Linked DNA regions of Homo sapiens. The protein of the gene in region 1 interacts with the protein of each later gene in a biochemical or structural test. Each region holds a gene or a part of one and is shown on either strand. Other genes may lie near its edges.

Region 1 (7,110 bases):
AAAAAAAAAGAACTTGGCCTCAAGTTCTTGACCAAACTACACTAAGAAGGCAAGTCAGGGAGGAAGATGGTGTGGTAAAGATGGGGTATGATTAGCAACACCAAGCATTTCAATGCTAGGAAAGCTAAAAAAAGTAGAGCCATCTCTAAATCTCATGGGATACAGCAAAAATCTCTAAATCATATGGGATACAGCAAAAAGATGGAAAAAAATGCAAAACTTAAGGCTAGGACAGGTGTGGTGGCTCACACTTGTAATCCCAGCACTTTGGGAGGCCAAGGCTGCCAGGAGTTGGAGACCAGCCTGAGCAACATGGCGAAACCCCATATCTACGAAATATTTTTAAAAATTATCCAGGCCTGTAGTCCCAGCTACTCAGGAGGTTGGAGGACCCCTTCAGCCCAGGAGTCCGAGGGTACAGTGAGCCACGTTTGACAATGCAGTGAGGGTACAATTGCACCATTGTACTCCAGCCTGGGTGGCAGATCAAGACTCTGTCTCAAAAAACAAAAACAAACAAAAAACCAAAGGCTAAAATCATCTCTCAAGGAAAAAAAAATAGAGACCATAAGCATTTTGCACAGTTGCATAAAACCTACTGGATCAGAATTATCTGTGGAATAGCCTAAAAAACTTCCAAAAAATAATTTCTGAACTGCCTACAGAGATGTCCCCCTGGCGAGAATCGGACCAGTACAGTGGAGAGTAGCACACCAGCTATATTTCCTACCTAGCTTAACAGCCAGGCACCCAAAAATCAATTTCCCATGTTTTCCTTTAATGACTAAAATTCGCTTCCATGGAAATGTAAGGGTAAGCTAGATTAGAGGGAGTTTTTAACAATTACCCTGGCTAAACAAACACCTAAACAACAGTCTGCAAACTGGAAGACTAGTGGATACATTTTATTGAAACTACGAACATTAAACAAAACACTTCCAGTTTAAACACGACCCCAGTTATTTCATAGCCATGTAATTATTTGTTAAGTCTGATATTAAAAACATCTCATATTGGATTGCTGTGGTTTTGTGAATTCTCACCCTCAACTGGGTCAGAAAGACTTGAAAGGAATAAAGTCTTTACTTATGGCTTGATGCGGGGCCATTGGCATAGTAAGTGCTCTGTCTTTTAACTGGTTGAAATAAACAGACAAAACAGAAACACACACATATACCCCAAATTTGAATCAGAGAGAGCCAGTATAAAATGATACAAGTACCAGTTCTCTGGGCTTGCCAGATTTCTGCTCTATAAGTAATATTAAACATGGCTCTTGGTCTATGAATTGTGAAACACTTTATATACTAATAAAGAATGTGTACTTCATTGTGTATTTAACTGCGTAAGCCTGTATTTGGTTTAATTGACCAAGAATAAGTCCTTGTTCCAAAGCTAACTATCAAGTTACAGTCAACTCTTAAATATTAACACTCATATTGAAAAACAAAGATGCAGATAATACGAAACAGAAGATTATTTTAAATCATTCACTCTTGGTATGCGGATATATTCTTTCTTCCTTTCTTTTAACTTGCAATTAAATGCGTATGGTTAATATTATGGCATTTACAATACTTCTAACAAAGGACTTAAACCATACTGGAAAAATCTGACTTAGGGAGGTCTCTGTGTAGATCCTGTCCTCGACGTTTCTGCTACTGAACTCTGGACCAACTCACGTTGGTCCAGGAGAGCATCACCTCTCAGAAGATTGACAAAAAATTGCTACACAAACTACATTTTTTTTCAGGTTGTTACTTTTCAGAGTCACACTCTGTGGAGGGTGGGAAAGTAATTAAGGGTGTAGGGTTGAAAAGCCCTTTCATTTTAGCTCCTACTGGGTTGGTGTAAACAAAGATGCCATTAATGTCAACAATGACTTAATTAACCAGAGTAGGTGACAATGTCAGGAAGAACTTGAAAGTAAGAGTTGCCCCCTCTCAGGGTAATCAAGCTTGACTAGACTTCAAATATTTATAATGTTAATCAACAGAATAGTACTTGGCATTGAGGACTGCCCCCCTTCGAGTCAATAACCATGTTTTCACTCCTCTGCTGGTGCCCTATAACAATGAATGACCAAAAGGAAATTAACAATGAATGACCAACTGGAAAACTCATATTTAATCTGAAATATTAAAAACTAAAATCTTCTAGAGATTATTTTCTTAAGTCAATTGAGTGGGCCCAACCCCACTGCTACTATTTCAGAACGTGTCCAGAAGACAAATGATATATATGATATATGATATGACATATGATATGATACGATATTGCACAAAGCCAAGATGACTAAACATAACCTTTCCCTGAGGGGCCAAAAGAAAAGGACCCTCTAGTGTTAGGGCCCAGGCTTCTTCCTGGAACTTCTCAGTCACATTTTTCTCCTATCCAATAGACATTATCTAAACTGAGCTTCCAAATAAATTAGCAAACCAAAAAGTCTTACAAGATAAGACCTTGGTGCACAGAAGGTCAAGGTGGAACTTACTGCTAACCAAAGCTATAGTAGTTCTAATCATGGAGAACTGATGGACAGGGGCACAGGCACGCACGCACGCACGCGCACTCGCGCACACACACACACACACGCACACTCTCTCTCTCTCTCTCTCTCTTCCAATTCACCAGCACAGAGCCTAAACCTGAGCCCATTTTCAGCTGTTAAAAACTCCTTTCTCATCTATAATTCAATGACCTTCCTAATCACCTCTGACACCAAAGCGAACTCCTGCAACAGAAGAACTGGTCTTAGGGCTCAAATCAGTGGCCAGTATTAGACTAACAGATGAGGGGAAGTGGGGACCCTACAGAAAGCAAACACAGCTTCCTGGAAACACCAAGGGCCTCCTCCATCCAAAAACAACTTTCTTCTCAACTGTCTCCAAAAGCCTAGATGTTTTTTGACATTGTGGCACCTGGCACAGCCAGCCCACGGGACTGGGAAGACCCATGTTCCCAGCTCCCTGGCGACAACGGCGACAAGGCCATGCACCCGGTGCTTACTGGATGCCAGCCCCTGTGCTAATTGCTCTTTATGTCCAGGTCAAATGGAAATCTCCTAACAACCTTTTGGTGGAAGAGTCAGAAGACTTCTGAGGACATTAATATTCAATGACTATTAATGAAGAGACCCTAAAGATCATCTTCTTAAGCCCTCAGACGACAGAAAGGGAAACTGAGGCCTGGGACTTGTATACTTTTCCAAAGCCTCTTCTTTGCCAGGTTTTGCACCTTCCTCTAAGACATCTTTTCTTTTCCATCTCATAATTCTGGATGCAAATGAACTCATAGCTCATGGAAACTATAAACCCATAAAAATGCACAAAAGGACATTAACAAAATATTACCTAAAATTTCCAGAACTTCATCGACCTCCTTCCTGATCCATAAGTGCATCCACAGATCCCAGGTTGAGCAGGCCTGCTTCCAACAATACCCACATTGTTGGATGTAAATTCTTACACAAAGACTCACTCGGGGAACTTCGTCCCTTTCCACGATTTCTTCCCTCTGCCTCACCTGTCCCTCCCTGCATGTATACACAATTTTAAACTTCCTTCAAGAATTAAATACAGTAAAACAAATCCTCTGGGACCATTTTACACTTTATGTTGAAATAAACTCACAATAACGCTGCCCTGAAAAGCCAAAATGAAAAATGACAGTTTTTCCCTAACCTGGGTTGCTCCTAAAGCCCACACCGTAGGAAATCCCAGCTCAGCTTCCTCAGTTTTTGCCGAGCCACGCACTCAAGGGAAAACCAGCAATCACGGAAACATCCATTTTAATTATTAGCAAAATTAAAGACGTACAGGCATGACTTTCAGAAACCAGGAACTTTTTCCCTCTTACATGAAAGCCCTGTAAAAATGCATCACCACTGCAAATTACACTCATCCTGGTGTCCCAGCACAAATCACCAAGAGGCAGTTCCATAATCGGCCTGTAGCTGTAGCTATACAAGCCTCAGACACAAACTCCTACCAGATTCCCTTCCCAGAGACGCAGGGAGATGTCACCACACCTGTTAATTATAGAGCTGCCATCCCTCTGTGTAACGAAAAGTTCCCCAGTCTCACACGATTGCTTCAGGTGATAAGTGCTTCGGTCCTCATCCTTCAATGACAAGTGCCTGGGGTCTTCCTGGGGAGCCCATGTCTCTCAGAACTCTCATCTCAGATGGACGCAACCCTCCTTCCTAAACTGTCCTGATCCAGCTAAGGAGGCTGGGCTCTCTGTCCTCTCCCAGCCTACCCCACTGGGTAAGTGTGCTGTTCATTCACCCCACGCACGAGATGTGTTCCCAGAGCAGCTCAGCTTACCCCAGACACCACTCGGACTGCTGCGGGTTCCTAAAGCCAGGCAGGCACCAGGTGGACTCTCCACAAACAGGTTCATTAAGTGGCGATGAGTGCTGGGATCTGCCGTTTTATTCTCGGATTACCACTCGAAAAATAACTCAGCTACCAATATTCCCTACTGATGACAGATTTCAGTGCAGCACCAAGTAGAGGCTTGGCTCACGTTGTCTCCAAAGGGCTGGGAGAGAGGTTCCAAATCTGCTAAGCTGAATAATTCAGCCTCATGTAGTCCTCGTAATTGGACTTACACCTTGAAAATTAAATTTCCAAAGCTGTGACACCGGCGCATGCCCTGTGATACTTGGAGGTTCTCGGAGCTGGAGGAGATCCCCTGGCACATTCACTTTCAAGTTTACCTAAACTAGAATCTGCCACTCTGTGATGATGCATTGCTTAAGTATTATGAATTACAATGGCTAAAAAAAAATTCTGAGATGTCAAGCCTCTCTCTCTGTGCTAAACTTCAGAAACTTCTTTTCTCCTTAAACAATGAAAATAAGATGTCAGCATTTCAGATGTTGGCAATTTCTTTTAGTGGTTCATCTTGTCCGAAAATAGCAATTCTTTACATTGTAAGCAGTAGGAATGATGCTGGGGGAGACTAGAGATGACATTCATCCTCCCAAGGTTCATCCCTTCCACAGCTCTCTCGGGCACTGGATAAAGGCCAACTCCCAGCTGTCTCCCTCACCCAGCACAGAGAAACACACACAGCAAGAAACCACCAAACTATACCATCCTGCCTGCAGTGCTGCGGCAAAGGACCTTCTCTCATCAGCTCTGCCTTGCCGGGAGCCAAGAGACCACGATCTGGTGCTCTTAGAAGCCCCATTTACAATGCAAGGGTAGCTGATTCTAAAACAGGCCTTAACAATCTGCCCCCAGACAAATCCCAAAACAAACCTGAAAAGTGAAATTAAATGACTTACCTTCTGGCTCTAATGTGGTATCCTCAACTAAACTGAAGGAGGGCCGGGCCAGGGACAAGGTTGCCATGGTGACCACGACCAGGCAGATGAAACGACCCCAGCTGACCATGGTTACGGTACCAATCCCCGGTCCTCTTCCATATCTCCATGTGGACGTTAATCCCATCTGCACACTTCCTCTACGGGCATGGACTACGCGCAATGCCTTCAGCCTGCGGTGGGCTCAGGAACCGAGGCGCTGCCGCTGCTGCTGCAGTCACTAAAGGAAAGAGATTGGCGAGTCAGGGAATCTTCCCCAATGCCAAATCACTCCAGCCCAAGTGGGATAAAACCATTTTTCAGCCTCTCAAATGTGCGCAAACAGAGTTCTTTTTCATTATCTGCTAAATCCTTCCATCCTCACCTCAGAGTCCCAGGTGATACCACCAGACCGGTCCACAGAAATGTGTGAGGCTAATCTTTTTAAAAGCATACTTTTAAGAAACAGAGATAAAACAGTAGCTACAGGACTCAGATACGTGCAGCCACTTCAGTGAGGCAATGTGTGCTCTCTTCTACTATCCACTATCGCCTCCACCGCCCTCAATGAGCAGAAGCAACGTGACCTTAGTTTCAAGGGCAACTACAAAAGCAAGTTAAAAATGCTCGGGTTGGCATAACCAACCTCGTTCCCTTCTCTTAGTCCAACTGGGCTTTAGAAAGCTAAACTGTTGGAGGAGTCTGCTCACAGCTCCGTATTTCTGCTGGGCTGGAGGTGAGCAGTCTCCCACCCTCACTGTCGCTCTTGGGAAGAAAGGAGACCAGCAAAATCAAAAGAATCCCAGGAAGGCTACAGAAAATTCCCACCAGTTTACACTTGTCAGGATTCATTTTCAAATGGAGAAGTGTCTTTCAGTCTTCCGCCAAGCAGCCACTTACGAAGAGTGAACACAACTGCAGCGCATTCAACGCAGCTGATCCAAAAAGGACTTCGAAGCCTGAATTCCCTTCCCCTGTGACTAAATGGCAGTCCAGGGCTGCTAAATGTCTTCAACCTCTGTAGAAGGGTGAGGAAACTGAGCAGATGCAAATTCTGATGAATAATGCAGGAATTTATTAATAATGATGATGTAAATTATGTAAATTATAGTCATGGTATGTGATTGGACCAATAACTTTCCATATGCAAACCTACTGGCTAAATTTTCAGAGTATAAGTTAGAAGAGGACACTCAACTTAATATTCTGTTCACCCATTTGATCCAAGGGAAAGAGAATTTTCCAAGAAAGCTTAATATATTCCAAGCAACTTTAAATTCACTCAGTACTCTCTGTGACTAAGGGTACAGTAAAATGCACAAACTTTAGAGAATGATTAAAACAATCACAAGAAGGGGCTCATCAATCTCAGGCTTCAGATTCTGTGAACCACAGGAATGAACCACATTTTCTAAGACTGGGGGTGGCAGGGAGGCCTTTAATACAAAAATCTCTAAACTCTACATTTTTTATGTACCCACTCGATGTTTCAAGTTATGTCATAGGATTTCAACACTGCTGGAGCCTCCCCAAATCTCATCATAAAAACTGCTCCTTTTAGCTTTGACTGAGGACAAAAATGGAGGAGGGAAAAGAATATGCCACATCATTTCCAAAGGAGGAATAAAGAAAACCTCTGCTTCAAAGATAGCACAGGTGAAACGGTGTGATTCACAGCAAAAGCAAGAAAAGTATGTGTGCAGTGTGTGTGTGTGTACACGGTGTGTGTGCGTGCATGGTGTGTGTGTATGCACGGTGTGTGTGTGTACATGGTGTGTGCGTGCACGGTGTGTGCA
Region 2 (7,000 bases), on another chromosome or scaffold:
GTGGTTTAAGGAGCACTCATACTGATATGTAAGACCTTCTTCTGCCCTGACTCTGTGCCCTCTCTTGTCAGCAGTTGTGAAATGGAGCTGACACCTCCTGATTTCTAGGGTGGTCATTTGGCTCAAAAGCGGGGTGGGGAAGTGCTTAGGTGTTGACAAGTTTGGTTGTCCTGGTGGTATGACAGGAACCAGGTTGGTGTTTGGCCTTTTATGTTGCAGATACTGACATAAATGAATAAAATGCAGTTATGTAGAGTTCCAGCTGAGTGCTATTGAGACCTTTCGTCCCATTTTACAGATGAGCAAATGGAAATGGAGAATCGTTTGTGCCCAAGGTGTTGTGTCAGTGTGTGCCAGGGCCTCAGCTGGGGCCAGCTCACTAGTCAGAGGCTGACTAGCAACCCCAAGCCCATGTTCCCTGTGGTCCACGTGGCTCCTCTGTGAGACACCTTTGTGCTCAGACCATGCATTACAGGGCAAAGACCACTTTGGCTTTTGTATCCCAAGACAGCCTCAGCCTCTCTAGGCTCTGGCTCCACACTTTTTCTTCTGGTGTTTTCTGAGTTGAGATGGTTCAGACTCGTGTTTAATGAGGTTGTCCATTTGAGGGTCTTTGTGGGCCCAGTAAACACTGGTGTAGACACTGTGGAGGTACTCTGAATACTGGCTGAGCATGTCCATGGGGACTTCTGAGGCCCCAGGCTTCTGTCTTTGGCTGATCCTTCACTAGATACTTTTCTAGATGCCAGGCCCTCTGAGGTGAAGGAGTATGGGTGCTTGCTTTTAGGGAAATGAAAACAGGCAATGACAATTGTGAGCAGTACCTTTGATGAAGAGGGTGAGGGTGGCGGAAGAAAACAGCTAACTGCCTTGATGAGGCAGGCGGGCTCAGAAGGGAGGTAGTAGTGGAACCAGCTGGCTGGGGCTTGACCCCTGTGGCTGGGGAGCAGACCACACCAGGAGGCCTGCTCCGAGGGCTAGGCCCACAGCACGGGAGAGGGCAAGGCCCAGGCCGGTGTCATCAAGGGTTTTCTTTGTACTGGCTGTTACTCCCAGTGGGAGAGGGGCAGGAGCACATGTCCGGATCTCCAGAGCTAGCCATCCCTGCCTGTGTATTTCCTGTCTGATGTAGTTTTTTCCAAGGGAAGTCAGACCTTTTAGTGTTTCCTCAGCACCCCAGGCTTGCCCCGATGTGTGGGTTTCCAGGCCCCCCCGCCCAGCTGGGATCCTCTGTTTCCTGTGAACCTAGGAAAAGGGCCTGCTTCACAGATAACTGGAGGAGCTGAGCACACCCAGTCCTGGGACCCACAACACCTCCAGCTTCTCTCCAGACTCTTGTGTGTGTGTGTACACAGATGCACAGGATTCAGTTGGAGTTTAGAGATCTTGGCTACCAGCTTTGCTCTGGGTAGCTTCTTGGAATGAGGCACATTTATTAATATTTGCAATAAGTATTATTATACCTCCCCATTTGCCCAGTGCTAGGCACCAAGGATTCAAAAGTTTATTGAGACATGGTTTGTGCCATTGATGAACTCTTGGAAAAGACAGATGTAGAGGCATATGATTATAACCCTGTGTGTTACATACCATAATATAAAGGCCTCTACCAAGAACTGTGAGGAGCTCTGCCAGGAAGGCATTAAAGGAGAGGTGACCTTTGAGGTAGGCCTTGAATTACTGAGGCACCTGTCTGTGCCGAGGCTAAGGAACTGGGAATCACTCTGTGCAGGGGTAGGGAACAGATATGGTGTGGTAGAGAGGAAGCTGGGACTGGTTGGAGACAGCTATAGCCCTAGTGTGCCATGTCCAGCAGATTACACTCAGTCCTGGAGGCGACGGGAGTCAGCGGAGGCTGTTGTGGGACTGACTTGCCTCTGCCTGGGAGACCACAGTGGCAGTGGTTTGTCAGGCAGGTGTTGGGGAGGGAGGCCAGTGAGCTCCTACGGTTTGCACAGTTTGCAGGAGAGAGCTGCTGAGGGCCCAGACAAGACCTTCTTGCTGAGGCAGGGTGGGGATGCCATGGTGGTAGATGGGAGAAGGGCTGGGTCTTGAGGGGTGAGACAGAGCTTAGTAGTTAAGCATTTGGGCCCTAGACTCTGCTTGAATTAAAATCCTGTTGTGCAGCTTACTTGCTCTGTGACCTTAAAGCATATGACTACCTCTCTGGGCTGCTTATCTGTAAAAAGGATAGTATTAAATGGCATTTATTTTATAAGGTTTTTGTGAGGATTTGATGAGAACCTGTATAAAGTGCTTAGCACCTGTATAAAGTGCTTAGCATGGAGTGTGGCACAGTGTAAGTGCTTACTACGTAGGATCCCTGACAGGACAGAGATGAGGATTAAGTTCTCAGGAGGACCTGGTGGGGAGGAGTTCGAATGCACCTGCTGTCCTAAGGGGCTGGTGCCTGGCCACCAAGCCCTTTGATTCAGAGGCAAGGAGGCCCGCCCATCCTCTCTTGCAGCTCTCAGCAGTCCCTCTATTGTCAGGGCTCTTTCCCACTGCTGGTTTTGCAGGGAGACAGGGCAGTTGGCTGGAAGCAGCTGCTTTGGGTGGTAACCCCTTCTGTAGAGTGAAGGTATGATATTGTCCTATTTCTAAGTGCCTAGCCCAGGACGCTATCTGGAGAGATCTTGTCTTTGAGGAAGTGCTCTAATGCCACAGCCTCGATGTGGTAGGGCCTGCCTCTGCTGTCACTGTTCTGTGTCAGTCTCCGTTAACTCACAGCATCTCTTCTTACTCTGTGCCTTTTCCTGTGGGATGTGGCTTCAAGGAGACCACAGATGATAAGTTGGAGGAAGGGAGTGAGGCCTGAGATTGCAAAGGTGTGATATTAGGAGACTGATTTTTCCCCCTTTCCACTTGCTTTGTTAGAACTAGAGAAGTCACTGCAGACTGTGAGGAGAGTCCTAGGAGAGATGGGTGTGGGATAGGAGGATGGGAATGTTCTGGTGCCCCTTGTAGAGTGCCTTGTTGAGAGGAGCATGGGAACAGTGCGTCCTTGGAGGGAATCTCTGAGAGCAGCATGTTTACAGGTGGCAAGACTCAAGGTGGAGCCACGGGTGAGGAGTGGCTTCAGGCTACCATTGACCAGATAGTCCCACCTTGCTGGTAATTGAGCTGAAGTGCCTGGAGATTTGTGGCTAGAGCTGGTCAGATTTGGGTTCAGGTCTCAGCTCTTACTGTGACCTTGGGCAGATTACTTTTCCCTGTCTGAAATTGATCTTTAGCTGTAAAAGTAATTTCTCCTCACAGAGCTGTATATTAATAATAAGGGAGATTATATATAAGAGTAAGAGATTTTATGTGAAAACTACCCAGCACAACATTTGTCACTTAGTGGCCACTTAACAGTATTCATTTCCTTTACTCTCACCTTTGTTAACCACAGAGCTCCAATCTTTTCCACCACTAAGCTCGGCCACAAGTGGCTGCTCCAACAACCTGGGCTAGGAGTCTGTTTCCTACTTGCTTTCTGTGTTCCTTCCCTGAGTCTGTACACAGAGGACTGGGGCATCAAAAAACTCTGGAATTGGAATAGCATATTGGGAGTTCATGGAACATTTTCTCACCTGTTGTATTGTTTGAACTTCACAGCAGCTCCATGAATCCATGGAGGGCAGGAGTTACTATCCCTCTCTTACAGAGGAGAAAACCAAGCCCTAAGGGTAAGGTCACATAGCAAGTTCATGGCAGATCCTAGGATTTCAGATTCCTGCTATAGTATTCAGTTTATTCTCCCATTCTGGGGAAAATGATAATAGGATGGACCGTTCTATAGGAACAGAGGGTTATTTTGTTTTGTTTTGTTTTTCTTCCCTCTGGCCACATGTGTTTGACCAGCCTAGACTTCCATCTGTGGACAAGCTGGACTCATTGCCTCAATTTCAAAACCCGTCCTGCACTCATCCTTGCCACAACACCGGTGTCGAGATGCTTGGCCCACCCAGACCTTTCCCACACTCCTACATGGGGGTGAATGTAGCCGCTGATTGGGGGTGGGACACAGAAGAGCCTCACCCTCTTGACTTTCTGGTTTGTGGTGACACTTCCGCCTAAGCTTCTACAGAACATGGGAACCTGGGGCTCCATGCCCCAAATATCCTGAGAAGGGCTTTTCCAGGATTCTCTATGACAACTCAAGAGCATGCATTCATTCATGTGCTCTTTAATTTGTCATACATTTGTTGTGGGCCTTGCTACTGTGTGTTGGGCACACTGAGCTGGATGTGATTACTCCAGCCTCTGACTTGTTCATGGTGGCAGTAGATCTCTAGCGTGGTTTGTGTTCCATCTCACCATACCTACTCTCCTTAAAAAAAAACAAAAAACTAGCTTTCTTGGGCCTCAGTGGCTCATTGAATAAGTGAGAGACGACTTGTGCTTCCCTGGCTTTAGACTCTGGCATTTGCTAACTGTGCCAAGCACTGTGGAGACCAGTAGTGGACATAAGGTTAGGGTAGATACAGCCAGAAAGGAGATAAATAGGCAGACAGATAAAATTCTTATAGGATTTGGTGAGTTCTATGAAGGAAATAAGGCAAGAGGCTGCTCTGTCAGGGTAGGTGAGGGTGTGCTGTGATAACAAATGATGCCCACATATCAATGGCTGGCAACAAGGAAGGTTAATTTCCCCTGTTTGCTATGTGTGCTAACCTACACCACCGTCCCTGGAGAGTGGCCTCAGTGGTTCTGGGTGAGGCCTCTAGTACAGAACCTGAACACCCTGGGCAAACTAGGCTGGAGAGGGATTTGGAGTATGGAGGTTTAGAAGGAATTAATTTCTATGACTTAGGATGCATGTGGTGAGTGTGGCTTTGCTGTTGTGGTAGAGTAGAGTGCTGCCTGTGTGGGTCAAGAGACTGTCTTGGCTGACATCTTTGAAATAGGTATATTTGTGTGGCCCTTGCCTAATTGTCATCTCTGCCATAGCTGCCCCCGCCTTCCCCACCAACCCATGGCCCTACTTGAGCTGCCTGCTGAGCCTACTCTGTTGTGGCCACAGTATCCTCCTGCTGCCCAGAGTTTGAGTTTCTCGCTACTTCTGCCACTCATCACACTTGCTTCCCAGAGCTTTGCTGGGTGTGCTGAAGTCTCCAGAGAAAGTGGGGAATATGGGTGCCTAGAGACTTCTAGGGGGTGTTTTCAGCCCCTAGAGAGTAGAGAAGTGTGAGAAGGGGTTGGTCCCCGAATATTCTGTAGTTTTGGGGAAGAAGCAATGGGGACAGTGGAGTTGGTTGCCTTAAGAGAGGCTATGGTCCCAAGAGATGGGACTTGGAGAGTCTCTACTTGCATTCCTGGCTAAGCCCTTAATATTCTCGCACCCCTCCTTGCAAGACTAGTTCCTTTTGAGGTGGTTCTTGGCTAGCTTTTGAGAGGCTGCAGTGGCTGTGTGCCCAGGCTTAAGTCCTAGCTTTCTCCCCACTCTTTACCTCCTAGGAACCGGGCCCATCCTGGGGGAGGCAGGGAGGAGCTCCTTTTTATAGTCCACATGTAGGCTTTGTGTATAGGCTCTGCTGCTTCCTTCCGGCCCTGGCCCTTCCTGGTGTTGGCCGGTGGCCCTGGCTTCAGCAAGACTCAGGATGCAGAGTAAACGGGGCAGGGCGTTCTCCTACAGAAGACTGGCATCCCTTTTTACTGAGCCCAGGCCTGGCACAGAGGAGGCTGGAGTTAGGAAGCAAGAAAACGAGGTGACCCAGTCCTTGATCCTGAGAAGCTTGTGATCTGGACCATGCAGAAAACCGCTAATGCCCAGGGCTGGCAGGAGACAGCTGTGCCTAAAGTGCTGTAGGCTGGGCCTGAGGGCCAAGATGGAATCGCTTTTCTCCCTGTAGCAGCCCATCCTACCCCCTGGGGTCCCTCCACCTGCCAGCTGGCACACAGGTGTTGGGTAAAGCATCTGTACAAAGGCTGTGAGGGGCCTGGGCGCAAGGCAGCAAGGCTTGGGTACGGAGGAGAGTGGGTGGTCTTACTGATGTTCTGGGCCCTGACAGTGAACAGCTGGCCAAACTGGTGAGGAGTTGGGCCATGGCGAGTTTGGCCACTTGTTTGTGTGTGTTTAGTTCTTCCTGGGCACAGGTGGGGAGTTCACTTTGGGGTTGGCTTCCTGTTTTCTTGGACACCTGGGGATATGGTTGAGTTAAAATGTTCTGAGGGAAATGATTGTTGAGGGCATGGGCTTGGGTCATAGTGTCCTTGGCTTGGCCTTGCCCATGGTAGGAGTCGGGTATTGACCACACTGGGTTCTGGCTGTGTAGGTGTGGATGTGTGGTGGGAGAATTCCAACCCCACCTTGACTTCAGCCTAAGGCCCAGAGAGTGTGGGCCTGAGTTCACAGGGTGACTAACCCTAGGAAGGAGTGAAGGAGAGCTCCAGTTGGCCATAGGTCCCACAGGTTTCTCAGCTTACTTGGGGGCAGGAGGTGAGCTAAGGAATACAACTCCATTCCCTCAGTTGGGAGGTTGGGCAGCGATGGGGGCAGGGGTGATGGTCCTTCTCTGAGGCACTGAAGACCCACTTTATGGTCACCCTATTCTGCCTGATAGTCCACCACCTGTTTGGAGGCAGCTCCCCTCTTCCTGCCCTAGTCACTTCCTCCACCTTCAACAGTAATTGAGTATAATGTGCCTGTGTTAGCTTGTCCATCCTAACTGGGACTGTGGCCTTTTCTTGGGCGTTCTTAGCATATCTACCAAGGAGGTTGGAAAAGGTAACATATGTCACTTTGTTAAGGATTTTGCTGAGGGCCTTTTGAGGCCAGCAGTGAAACACAGAGCATTCCCTCCAGTGAGAACAGAATGTCTGTTGCCAGACTGATCACAAGAGGATGGCCTGGTTCTGGCCTGAGAACTGGTCTACACCGGAAGCATGAAGCTCCATACAATCATGTGTGCTAGTAAAGTTTGGGCAAGCAGCTGTCCTAAGCAGGTAAAACGATAGGTTATTCAACTTCAACTTCAGAGAAAGAAATCCAAGGTAGCCATCTCTCTCAGTAGGG
Region 3 (7,000 bases), on another chromosome or scaffold:
TGTACACAGGTAGAAAAGCAATTGGGGCACAGAAAGAGAATAAGACCATTACTGGCTCTGTATTGAAAATCTCAAATAATTGATTTCTTTGAAGAATGTGGAGATTAATTCATTAAATTTGTAGTCCTTTCATCAGATTATGTTAAATTTCTAAATAATTTTTAGCCAGTAAATGAAACATTTCTTTATTGAAATAATTGAAATAGCAACAAATTTTGCTCCAACTACTTTTTCGAAAAGTAAAAATTTATTGTTTTAGATATATACAGTAAGAATTTTTCAATCATATTAGGATCCTAAAGCATTTTTAGGTTATAGCATAGGAAATGTTTTTGGTTAGTTTATCGGTGGCCCAAATAATAGCTGTTGGGCATCATTTCTTGTTACAGGAGGGTGGTCCTATAAATCTGCTCAGAACTCAGAAAGAATTTTAAATTAGGCTTAAATCCCACTGCAAATCCCTGGATTTCTGTCCAGTATTCATGCACAAAATATTACTCTAATAGTCCGAAATCATATATAATCTTCTGACTTTGGCATACATGCTTAGTTGGTCATTATTAAAATGTTGGTTCAGGTCAATTGTATAGTTTTTTTATTTGATTCAAACAATTTAGTGGCAACTTCGTTTAGTTCTTGACAACACCAAAGATAGATCCTTAGACAATAGCTCTCAAGTTGAAATTTAATAAAATTTAAATATTCCACCCAAACCAGGGACTAAGAATGGAGGTGAGGGAGAGGAGGAGTGTTATGTTGTCAAATAAGTTTAAGAAATCATGTATACTCTTTTCCTAGAGTTTTAAAAATTCTCATTAGTATAGTATAGACTCAGAGAAATTCTGCTGAAAGAAAATTGTTCAATTTTATTTAACCTAATATTTCTCAGCAGGTTAGTTAGAGAAGCTGTGCTACAGGAAACAGCCTTAATATCTCAGGGGGCACTAGTGTTATAAAGAAACACAGTTTGGAAATATTACCTTAAGAAAATTCTGCAAGCTGAGTTCATTCTGAATTTGGTCTCAAACTATTTTCTTAGCATTACTTACAGTTACATCTAAAGTTCAAGTAGCCAGATAAAATGGGAAATATTACAATAGAATATAACAAATGTGATATTTGAGGATATTGAAACATGTCTTATTTCTCTTACATTAATCTTAAAAATAAATTCAGTTTCAGAATAATTCTGATAAATAAGCAAAGATTATTACAGTTTTCGGCACAAAATCAACCAAGAGATTCAAACCTATTTGAGTAATACCTGTAATAATTTATTATCATTTCAACCCCTCTGTATTATTATCTGAAATTGTTATTTCAATTTCTAGTTAAATCCAACCCCCAGCATTTTAGTGGTTTTGTTTCTTCCTTCTACTATCTTGTCATTCCATTGTCTCATTCTTTAAGTGCATCAAGAAAGTTAGTGGGGCTATATTTTATGAGAAACTTTGCTTCATTTTAAGTTTACAGAAGATTTAAAATCCAATAATTTTTATGTAAAGTCTTTTTCCTTTTCTCTTTTGCTCTTTTTCCTCCTGTTCACAAAGATATTTTCTTCCTCTTTATTTTTAGATGGACACTAGCTAATGACTCTATCAAGTACTCATGACCACTCCAGTAGAAGAGATTACTTTCTTCTGGAGGGAAGTTAAGCAACTGGAGAATCTCTAGAGCCAATTCTCCCCAGTATACATCAAATTTTTTTCCTCTGAGAATGATGTTGCCTGCCTAAAGACAAGGTTTACTTGGGCATGGGTACTGGATAATTCTCCTCTCTCACTCCCCATCTTAATCACTTTGTCTTTACATATTACTACACAAACCCTTTCATACACATAGTTAAGGAACTTTAATGACATTTTTGTTAGTGAATTTGACACGACTTCTCTACTAAAGATATGTCCAGATATAATCTCAAATGCAGATAAAAAACTTGGTCCAAAAGCGGTTAAACATTCAGGGACTCTTTAACACAATTTTCCAAATCATGTGGAAGGCAGAGGATTTTCATTTACAACCTATTTGAGGGGTAAAAATGTTAGATGTTGTTTAGTAAAGGAGTTTATATTAAAGTCTATTTCATTGAACAAGAGTCATTTTTCTCCATATTACTTAAGTATACATAATTTTATTGTGAGATATATAAAATTTAAAAATGGAAAAGTATTGTATTCCAATAGTGATGTTAGAGAAGTTATTGTGCTACCAAAAATTGTGTGATACAAAGGAAGAAAGCTATGATCCTTAGAAAATAAAAAAAGCTTTGCCCTAATGTTGTGCATCATTCCAGTCTTAAAAAGAGAACAGTCCTCTAGCTTTATGTCTTTTCTCTGATCTGGATAGACCCTTGCTATGGTTTGAATGTCCTCTCCAAAACTCATGTTGAAATTTAATTGCCATTGTGATGGTATTAAGAGATGGGACCATTGAGAGGTGATTAGGCCATGAAGGCTTCAACCTCCTGAATAGATTAATGTCATTTTCTCAGAAGTGAGTTATGAAGAGAATGGGTTGTTAGAAAAAATGATTTCAGCCCTGTCTGTCTCATACTCTCTTACTCTCATACATTCTTGCCCTTCTACCTTCCACCATGGAATGACACAGCAAGCAGGCCCTTGCTAGATGCCATTACCTTGATATTGGACTTCCCAGCCTCCAGAACTGTGAAGAATAAATTTCTTTTCTTTATAAATTATCCAATCTGCAGTATTCTCTTATATCAACACAAAGCAGACTAAGCCAACCCTCTAGAATTGTGGTTCTCTCCCCCTGGGTTTCCTAGGCTAGAGGTTGTCTCCTTAAACCTCTGCCTTTGAACTTGGTTGTGTGGCCATGAGAGGTGAGATCCTAATCTGGGAGCATCTGAGTTCATAGTCATAAGGTGGCTCATTTAAGTGCAGAATAAGCAGACATTGAGGCCTGTACTTCAAGTACCCTACTGCAACACCACTTTAAAGTGTCAGAAGAGATGCAGACCTGCCTGTCATTGTGAGGCTGTGGTACAGAACCTATTCTTCCCTGCAGCTAACTCATTCACCAAAGCAGTCTTCTTAACATAGTAGCTACAGAGCTATCATCACGTACATTTCCAGGCCAGTTCACCAAATGTTGGAGCCACTAAGATTTGTCAGAGAGGTCAGATGAGCCCAGAAGAACCCTCTTGGTGCATAATTCAGAGATTTATGCCTAATCAAGCCTATTTCAAAATCCTCTAGGGTTCAAGTTAACTTTGAATCCCTCTACAGGGTCTGAAACATTCCCAAGACCCCTGAGGTGGTCCAGGCTGAATTAGAATTCTTGTTCTCCATAAGCAGTGGTTTGCAACCTTAGCTGCACTTTAGAATCATTGGAGAACTTTAACAAATACTAATGCCTGGTCCTTCCCACCTTTGTGAGATTCTGACTTAATTCCCCAGTAATCTAATGTGATCCCCTTAGTCCAGTGGTTCTCATCCCTGGCAGCATGTCAGAATTATCTGGGGAAGCTTTTAAAATTCCTGATGCCCAGACTGTACCTCAGATCAATTTAATGAAAAATTTTTTGTGGGTGGAAACTGGCATCAGTATTTTTTTAAAGTTCCCCAGCTGATTGTAATATTTAGACAAGGTTGAGAGATAGAAAAATGTAGAAAGGCAACCCTTTCAATATATCTAAGAGCTGACTTCTTCCATTCTCTGTAATTCACTTGGGCCTCTGAATGCTCTAGAACTGTAGGTTAAAGAGTTATTGTACAGCTGAGTCATAAGGGTCAGTCTAGATGAGGATTTACAAAAGAGAAAAGAGATGATAAGAGATGCACTCGTGGCAATGAATGAACTTATTAGCACTTCATAAGTGCCAGGCACATGTGATAGCCAAAAAGAAAAGATTATAAAATTAAAAACTAATCAAAGAATGGCTAATATTTTCAAATCTGCTCCCCAGCAGTTTATCCATTCTTCATAATTTAAAGCCCTAACAAGTTACTTAAGGGAATGCGGGTCACCAGTTCTACAAGATTCTACCTTGTCTATAATTGCTAGGATTTTGGTTCGACTGCGTAGATATGTTACTTATTATCTATTTTTTTAAAGGCAGGGGTTGTCCTTACATTGCTATTTTTGATTCTGATAATGTGAATTATTGTTCTTTTAGATAACTTGCTAAGAACTGTTTAGAATATAAGCAAATTTACCATCTCCATATTCAGAGGCAATATGTGTATTTGCTAGCTTCTAACACATTATTGTTAAGTAGGAGCCTATCCAAAGAATTGTTGACAAATGAGTCGCTGAAGGTTTTGTAGCCAAAGTCAAATTCAGCAACGCTGTGTTTATTTGCCTTTTGCCAATTGTTAGGCCATATCCCATCACAGTCTAACAGTCCAAAAGAGAATATTGCCAAATCATTGGCCAGTTTTCAGAATGGCTAACCCTTTTCTTGCTATGGAACTAACAGTGCTTCATTATAATCAAGTGAGGCAATTTATGACAAGAAATTCTTAAAAGGAGTAGATGATATTGACTATTATTGGGAAGAGCACAACTTTTTAGTAATTGGATACCAAAAGCATGAAAATTATCCTGAGGGATTGGATTCTGTCTTCCACATCTGTCTCTCAAGGCGGTCACTGAGTGCCCAGTGCACTGCTGCTTTCTCTCACTCGGCACCTCAATACTCAGCTTAAAGAGCAGTGTTATTTCTGTCAGGTGCAGAATGATAGCCTCTGTCTGCTGTTGGACTGCCTGGTGCAGCAGTAATCTAAATTCACCCTCTGATCTTGTCCCCATGGGGAGAGTTCTGACAACAAAAGTGGAAGTATCGACCATTCATTTCACCCTTTTATGATGTTCTCAATGCTCTTCTTCTTCTGCAGAGAAAATGAATATTTACTTCATTTTGAATGTGTACTTTGGAGGGACATTTTATGCTTTTAGTATTCTTATTATTAGTTAAGGTTAGATACTAGTTTCATCACCTGGAAACCCACTGTTAGGCTAAATGTGAAGCCACCAGAGAGATAAGTAAAGGGGAGAGACTTTCTGCCTCCTGGGTAACAGTAGTACACAATCCTTATGACCAGTTCTCTAGTAGCAGCTTCTGTCCCCTCAAGAGTCAGAAATGTGGTCCAGTATCTCTTGGCCTCTCATGAATTCCCCCATCTTCATAGTTCTTATTTATATGTCTACTAATACAAGTCTTATTTCCGTTGGGTTCCTTGATGCACTCTTTCTGTAATATATTCATTCTAATCTAAACTTAAAATATTTTACAAAACAACACAGTAATTAAGGTAAGACTAAAGTAAGTGACAACCTCACAATCCAGGATAGCTTAAGTAATTTTTTAAAATTCCCTAAAGTTATGAGACATGAGCAGTCACATCCACTTGCCCACCACTCCCTTTTCTTTCTCCATGCCCTCCAACCATCTACCCGAGCCCAAAACATTGTGGAAGCAGAATTATACATCTAGATATTTTACTTCTCCTGCTAGCTCCAATCCATATTTACTAGTATCTTAAAAAACCACATTCCTGTGTGGAAGCATTGCTTCTGCTGGTGAAGTGAGTAGTCCTCTGAAGCCTATTGACATTCTCAGGTCAGTCATTCAAAAAAAAGTCATGAGAAAAGATTGGGGACTTTCTTTTGGTAACCAGAAGAATAATTATATTTTGCATAGCTGGCATATTACTTTTCATGTAAAATTTTATCTTCCAAGACACTAAAATCTATACTAACTTAAAAGACCTCCAAAGAAAGGTGATTGACATGACAACCTGTTGAAAAAATTTAAGGCATCAAAACATTGAAAATGAAATTCTGAGTTTGATTCTGATCTTTAATCAGAATCCTGCTGCATTTCATTCTAGTAGACAATCCAATTACCTTTTTCTCTCATTTTAATGAAAATAGGAAGGAAACATTCTTTCATTCATTTATTTGTCCATTCATTCAATTAATGATTGAGGAATGTAAACAATCTTCAAATGTCATAATTTCAAGTTTCCATTCTTGTTATTTTAAACAAATTCTGAGCATTTTTTGAACCTAGATTTCCTAATATAGCAGCTTCAACTTCACATGTGTCAATTAGCACAATTGGACATTCACTCTTAAAATTATTATAGTAAGGCTACCCTTCAAATAATAGGAAATGGCTATCAGAATTTTCTTCTAACATGTTATTCTCCATATATTCTTCATTGTAGCATTTCCCTCTGTACCTAAGGACTTCCTATAGAAAAAAAAGAGTGGCTTATCCTCTTTTTAACTTTGGAGAAATCTTACTGACTCCTTCTCCAATAAGATAGCCACATAACCTTACGACAGTTTTAGGGTTTACTTAAAGGATTCTGATGAAAGTTTCCCTTTCCAGGATAATTAACGATATCAAGAAAGTATACCATATATACAGCCTATTAAAAAGTTTATAGAAGTAAAAATTATTTACATGATGTGTATCTTGTCTTTTTAGTACACTGGTATTGTGACATTCTAATTTATAACAATATAGGGCGACTTCCTTTTTTTTTCTTTTGTGCTATAGAATTGGTGTTAGAGGAGATGGTTTACAAAATTGGCTTTAGGGTTACTCAAAGTTAGCACTAAATTGTATTTCAAACTATAAAATAATTTTAGCATTTTATGCATGTGTACTACCTGAGTTTCATTGTTTCAAGAAATTTTAACACAAACAAAATAAAATTTACATATGCAAATGTATTCCAGTTGAAGATATTGTTGATCCTAAATAATTATGCATACTATTCATTTTCACTGGATTTTACATCTACTTTTTTGCTTTTTCATTACTTGGTAAAAGGATTCAAAAGGAGTAGTCAGCATGTAGAATTCCACAGTTAAGGTTTGGTAACCTTATTGCTATAATTTGAAATTAGTTCTGACAGCTTATCCTATTACTTTCATCTCATTCGTTGTGTGAGATAATTATACAATGGGTATTTAGGTTTCTTTATATTTATGAAATATATTCTGCGGTTTAAAATAGAATAGA

The links.
Region 2: the proteins of FGFR2 (region 1) and PLCG1 form a complex in vitro, tested with the Homo sapiens proteins (2 studies listed by BioGRID and IntAct).
Region 3: the proteins of FGFR2 (region 1) and FGF7 form a complex in vitro, tested with the Homo sapiens proteins (3 studies listed by BioGRID).

What each region holds. Positions count from the first base shown.
Region 1 is NC_000010.11:121,588,413-121,595,522, forward strand, and holds part of FGFR2 (fibroblast growth factor receptor 2 isoform 1 precursor), read right to left. Parts: intron 5,847-7,110; exon of another isoform or gene 5,556-5,846; 5' UTR 5,463-5,555; coding exon of another isoform or gene 5,406-5,462; coding exon 5,297-5,405; intron 1-5,296. UniProt on the Homo sapiens protein: Tyrosine-protein kinase that acts as a cell-surface receptor for fibroblast growth factors and plays an essential role in the regulation of cell proliferation, differentiation, migration and apoptosis, and in the regulation of embryonic development.
Region 2 is NC_000020.11:41,140,543-41,147,542, forward strand, and holds part of PLCG1 (1-phosphatidylinositol 4,5-bisphosphate phosphodiesterase gamma-1), read left to right. Parts: intron 1-7,000. UniProt on the Homo sapiens protein: Mediates the production of the second messenger molecules diacylglycerol (DAG) and inositol 1,4,5-trisphosphate (IP3). Plays an important role in the regulation of intracellular signaling cascades.
Region 3 is NC_000015.10:49,426,242-49,433,241, reverse strand, and holds part of FGF7 (fibroblast growth factor 7 precursor), read right to left. Parts: intron 6,415-7,000; exon of another isoform or gene 1-6,414. UniProt on the Homo sapiens protein: Plays an important role in the regulation of embryonic development, cell proliferation and cell differentiation. Required for normal branching morphogenesis. Growth factor active on keratinocytes.